Linked DNA regions of Homo sapiens: region 2 is linked to region 1. The links come from fine-mapping of genetic effects on gene expression. A gene starts in region 1. The other region holds a variant in brackets. All regions are shown on one strand. Distances are from middle to middle.

Region 1 (2,919 bases):
GGGTGCCTGTAATCCCAGCTACTCAAGAGGTTGAGATAGGAGAATTGCTTGAACTCGGGAAACGATGGTTGCAGTGAGCCAAGATCGTGCCACTGCACTCCAGCCTGGGCAGCTGAGCGAGACTCCGTCTCAAAAAAAAAAAAAAATCCTAAGGCCCCCAGCAACAGAACGAACCCCCTCTTGGCCAAGGGGGCCCTAGGAAAACCTTAACAATGGAATTTCTGGCCACGATGGGAAGAAAGGTGAGATGCCCCTTATGCCCACTCCTTGCTGGAGTTTAAGCTGAAGTGACCAGTATTCCTTTAAAAGTGATAAGGCTGACGGCAGTCTGAGGCAGTAAGAAACCAAAGTACAAACAAGACCTAAGGCCATGCCCGGCAAGGGACAGTCATGCCGCAGGCCATCAGTCTTGCTGCGCAGCATCCTCAACTTAGAGATTCCCTTCTGCTGACTCCAGTATTTAGATAGAGCCCTACTCCTTTAACCAACTGCAAATAAAGAATCTCTGAATCCACCTACAATCTGTAAACCCCCACTTCAAGATATCACGCCTTTCTGGCCAAACCAATGTATAACTTCCATGTACTGACTGATGTCTTTGCCTGTAACTCCTGCCTCCCTAAAATGTATGAAACCAAACCGTAATCCAACCGCCCGGGGTGCACTTTCTCAGGACTCCTTGAGAGTGGGTTTCCTGGCCTGCAGTCACTCGTATCAGTCAGAGTCAACTTCTTTAAAATACTTTACAGAGTTTGGTTTTTCTGTCAACATTGCTTAGAAGATATTTCTTATTGTGGTTGAGGAAAAGTCTGAAAGCCACTGCCCTAGCCTATGGCTCTTGCCTATAATCCCAGCTAACTGGGAGGCTGAGGTGGGAGGTTCGCTTCAGCCCAGGAATTTGAGGCCAGCCTGGGCAATATAACGAAACCCTGTCTCTAAATAAAAATAAAAAACAACTTATACAGTTTGTTCTCAACTACCACCCCTGCAAAAAATAAAAAATCAGTTTTACTTATCAGTTTCTTCACAGATATTCAGCTTAAGTGAATTTGCTATTGAAATCATCTGAGATCATCTTAAAAGCCCCAAAGGAAAAACCACATTTGTAATATACAAGCTAGAATAGCATTCATACTTCTGTTCTTCTTGATCTCTTAGATGGTGTTGTTTAAACATACAATAGAGGTTTAGAGAAGACCAAAGAAATTGGAAGAAAGCTTCAGCTAGGCTTTGAAAAACTGGCACATTTTAAGCAAGGCAGAGGGAACCAGTAGGAACGGGCAGGACATGCGGGGGCGGGCAAGAGTGTGCTCAGAAAAGCAGACACGGGGATCAGAGCGGGGCGTTCCGAGCGATGAGGGCTCAGGACGAGGAGGCAGCAGTTGGGATGAACCAAGGATAAAACAAAAAACAGTATTTGTGGGGAGGTGGGATGGCCACAGGGCAGCGGACCCAACGTCCAGTGGGACAGAGCTATGAATCTGCCTTGTAAAGTTCCATCTCTCTGTGGGAGACACTGAATTAGAAACTGAGGAACTTGTTTGATCAGGTCTCCCTGCCCCGACTGCTCTTGGTCACTTGCTTTTTGTTATTTTTCGTTTCCTTTTTCCATGAAGCTGAAGGCTGCAGCATTTGAACACCTGAGCACTGAACGCTGAAACTTAACCTTCACTGGCTACTTTACAAGATAACACAAGGCACATTGTAATGGTTGCTTCACTTGTTTCCAGCAACCTGGGCCAGTTCTCGTCCAGTTCAATGGGCTGAGACCACCAACACTTTCAGTGGGCCTTTATCTTCAAGAGTTCTTATAAAATGATGTGTGCACATGAAAAATATTTATATATATAAGGTAAAATGACTATCAAATCTGTAATTAAAATTGTATAAGAGGTGACAAAAAATCACTTCTGATTTAAGAGACAACCTACTATGACATATTAGAAATTACTAAGAGTAGCCCAGAGAACACAACTGACTGTCAACGACTGAAGATAAAAAACTGGAAAGAATGTAAAGGAAGGATGACGCAATCGTGCATGGCGGTCCTTTACCAAATTGAGAATGAACACCCGAGACGAATGATCTCTGAAGATCAGAGACACTGCTCTCAGGAACAGAACACACAGTAACTCATCTCCATATTCTAGGAAAGGAGTTAATAGTGATAATAAATACAGAATTTCCAGCACCTACTGTGTGCTGGGCCATTATAAATGCTACAGCTCTTCTCAGGCCAACACTGCCAGGAAGAAGTGATGGCTTTCATATGACAGCCTCGGAGCTGCTGCTGTTTGCCTGAAGCCACAGGCTGATGGGGTAGGACTGTCCTTTTCATATGGGGACAAGGAATGGGAAATTGTTAAATAAGTCCCCCAAAAGTAAAACTAAAGCATAAATAGTGGTTAAGAGGAAGGGTAGACATGGAAGTTAGCTCTAAAGCTCATTGTGATGACCCCACGAGGTACTCAATACAATGGTAGCATGTGGGGGCTTTATTTTTATAGGCAGCTTCTATTTTCATTACTATGAGATGTGCAGCAGATGTCTTCATTTACATATAGCCCAGGAGATGGGAAAAATTAAGCTGGTTTCCAGTCTTGTGTCTGAAGAGATAAGTTTATTTAAACAATTAGCACAAAATGGCCAAACAGAAGTTGCTTTGATTTAACCTAATTTTATGATTTAACTAGAAAAGAAAGTCTAGAAGTATTTGAACATCTAGGTTGGAAAGCCAACTAAAGTTAAACAGGATTTTTAGCAGCATCTCACCCATTTTTAAAAAGCCCTCAAAGTGAAGTAAGTCTCAAAGTTTTACCACCTCTGTTAGCCTTCCTGACCCCAAGTGAACCACCCGCACGGAGACCATATCTGGAGAACATAATGATCTTTACCTACCTTTTTTTCAAAGAATTTTTT
Region 2 (2,919 bases), 140 kb before region 1:
ACAGTCCCCGGTGTGTGATATTCCCCTTCCTGTGTCCATGTGTTCTCATTGTTCAATTCCCACCTATGAGTGAGAACATGCGGTGTTTGGTTTTTTGTCCTTGCGATAGTTTGCTGAGAATGATGGGTTCCAGTTTCATCCATGTCCCTACAAAGGACATGAACTCATCCTTTTTTATGGCTGCATAGTATTCCATGGTGTATATGTGCCACATTTTCTTAATCCAGTCTATCATTGTTGGATATTTGGGTTGGTTCCAAGTCTTTTCTATTGTGAATAGTGCCACAATAAACATACGTGTGCATGTGTCTTTATAGCAGCATGATTTATAATCCTTTGGGTATATACCTAGTAATGGGATGGCTGGGTCAAATGGCATTTCTAGTTCTAGATCCTTGAGGAATCGCCACACTGACTTCCACAAGGGTTGACAGTCCCACCAACAGTGCAAAAGTGTTCCTATTTCTCCACATCCTCTCCAGCACCTGTTGTTTCCTGACTTTTTAATGATCGCCATTCTAACTGGTGTGAGATGGTGTCTCATTGTGGTTTTGATTTGCATTTCTCTGATGGCCAGTGATGATGAGCATTTTTTCATGTGTTTTTTGGCTGCATAAATGTCTTCTTTTGAGAAGTGTCTGTTCATATCCTTCGCCCACTTTTTGATGGGGTTGTTTGTTTTTTTCCTGTAAATTTGTTTGAGTTCATTGTAGATTCTGGATATTAGCCCTTTGTCAGATGAGTAAGTTGCAAAAATTTTCTCCCATTTTGTAAGTTGCCTGTTCACTCTGATGGTGGTTTCTTTTGCTGTGCAGAAGCTCTTGAGTTTAATTAGATCCCATTTGTCAATTTTGGCTTTTGTTGCCATTGCTTTTGGTGTTTTAGACATGAAGTCCTTGCCCATGCCTATGTCCTGAATGGTAATGCCTAGGGTTTCTTCTAGGGTTTTTATGGTTTTAGGTCTAACATGTAAGTCTTTAATCCATCTTGAATTAATTTTTGTATAAAGTGTAAGGAAGGGATCCAGTTTCAGCTTTCTACATATGACTAGCCAGTTCTCCCAGCACCATTTATTAAATAGGGAATCCTTTCCCCATTTCTTGTTTTTGTCAGGTTTGTCAAAGATCAGATAGTTGTAGACATGCGGCATTATTTCTGAGTTCTTTTCTAAAGTGCAGAGTCAGTGGCTGACTGGGAATC[AGG/G]GGGAGGTGGGGAGTGGCAGGGGGCAGGGATTATAAAAGGATATGAGAAAATTTGGGGGTGATGGATGTGTTTATGTTCATTAGCTTAATTGTGGTGATGGTGTCATTGGTGCATTCTCATGACAAAACTTATCAAATTATATACTCCATGTGTAGCTTATTTTATGTAGTTCAATAAAGCTGTTAAAAATTAATATTTCTTATATTTGTATATGTTATAATTTTGTTCATTTTGTACTGACAATTGAGAATTAATTCTGAGACTACTTCTTTAGTTCAGCCTGTGACCTTTTTCCTGAGAGAGTCTTTTCCTGTTAACATTTAGCTATATGGATTGTAATATTGTTTGTTTATGGAACTCATTTTTATTGATTACTCAGCACTGTAGCAGGCATTGGGAAATAAAAAATGAGGTGTAGAAATATATTCATGCCTCATGGACCTTTGATCTAGAGATTTGTAATCATACATTTGCAAGCATCTCTAAAGAATATAAGAAGTTTAGGGGCCAGGCGTGGTGGCCCATGCCTGTAATCCCAGCACTTTGGAAGGCCGAAGCGAGTGGATCACCTGAGGTCAGGGGTTCAAGAGCAGCCCAGCCAACATGGTGAAACTCCGTCTCCACTGAAAATACAAAAATTAGCCTGGCGCAGTGGCGCGTGCCTGTTATCCCAGCTACTCAGGAGGCTGAGGCAGGAGAATCGCTTGAACCCGGGAGGCGGAGATTGCGGTGAGCCGAGATTGCGCCATTGCACTCCAGCCTGGGCAACAGAGTGAGACTCCATCTGAAAAAAAAAAGGTTAGGAAATGGTGGAATTTATGTTGCCTAAAAACATTACAGCATATTAGAAGGAATAGCTTAAGTTTTTCTTGCTCTGGGACAAGGGCACGTTTCTGAACCTGAAGTCCGTCTGTAAAACGGGGGACCTTCCCTCATAAAATATTAAGGTGGTAGCTGGCTGAGTGCAGTGGCTCACATCTGTAATCCCAGCACTTTGGGAGGCTGAGGTGAGTGGATCGCTTGAGCCCAGGAGTTTGAGACCAGACTGGACAACATGGTGAAACCTCATCTCTACAAAAAATACAAAAATCAGCCTGGCACGGTGGCATGTGCCTATAGTCTCAGCTACTTGGTAGGCTGAGGCGGGAGGATCACCTGAGTCTGGGAAGTCAAGGCTGCAGTGAGCCATGATCACACCACTGTCTCAGAAAAAAAGATAGCATCTTAACGTATCCAGAACAATGCCTACTATGTTACATACCTAACAGTGACAGGCATACCTTGGAGATACTGCAGGGTTGGTTCCAGTGTACTGTGATGAAGCGAATGTGGCAATAAAGTGAATCACACAAATTTTTTGATTTCTCAGAGCATATAAAAATTATACTTAACACTATAATGCCATTTATTAAGTGTGCAATAGCAATGTGTGTACATGCCTTTATTGCTAAAAAATGGTAACAATTATCTGAGCCTTTAGTGAGCTGTAATCTTTTTGCTGGTGGAGGTCTTGCCTTGATTTTGCTAAAGGTTGCGTGACCGTGGCAATTTCTTAAAATAAGACAACAGTGTAGTTTGCCATATTGATTGACTCTTCCTTTCACAAAAGATTTCTGTGTAGCATGTGATGCTGTTTGACAGCATTTTACTCACAGTAGAAGTTCTTTCAAAATTGAAGTCCATCCTCTCAAACCCTGCCTCTGTTTTATCAACTAA

Which allele goes with the higher level. Alleles are on the strand shown, and positions count from the first base shown. SD is a standard deviation of normalised expression in the study named.
With allele AGG in place of G in region 2, the expression in lymphoblastoid cells of the gene that starts at base 1,510 in region 1 is higher (moderate effect, 0.64 SD a copy in TwinsUK).

What was found. PIP is the estimated chance that this variant, and not a neighbour inherited with it, causes the effect.
Region 2: its variant is fine-mapped to the expression of RNF32-AS1 in lymphoblastoid cells (TwinsUK, PIP 0.95).

What each region holds. Positions count from the first base shown.
Region 1 is chr7:156,658,550-156,661,468 of GRCh38, reverse strand. RNF32-AS1 (RNF32 antisense RNA 1) reads left to right here and starts at 1,510. Exons shown (of 3, transcript NR_189275.1): 1 at 1,510-2,919. RNF32 (ring finger protein 32) reads right to left here. Exons shown (of 9, transcript NM_030936.4): 7 at 2,899-2,919.
Region 2 is chr7:156,801,072-156,803,990 of GRCh38, reverse strand. All of the region lies in intron 4 of LMBR1 (limb development membrane protein 1), which reads left to right. Among named protein-coding and RNA genes, the nearest start is that of LMBR1, 91 kb to the left of the region's middle. The variant AGG/G (reference allele first, on the strand shown) is at 1,201.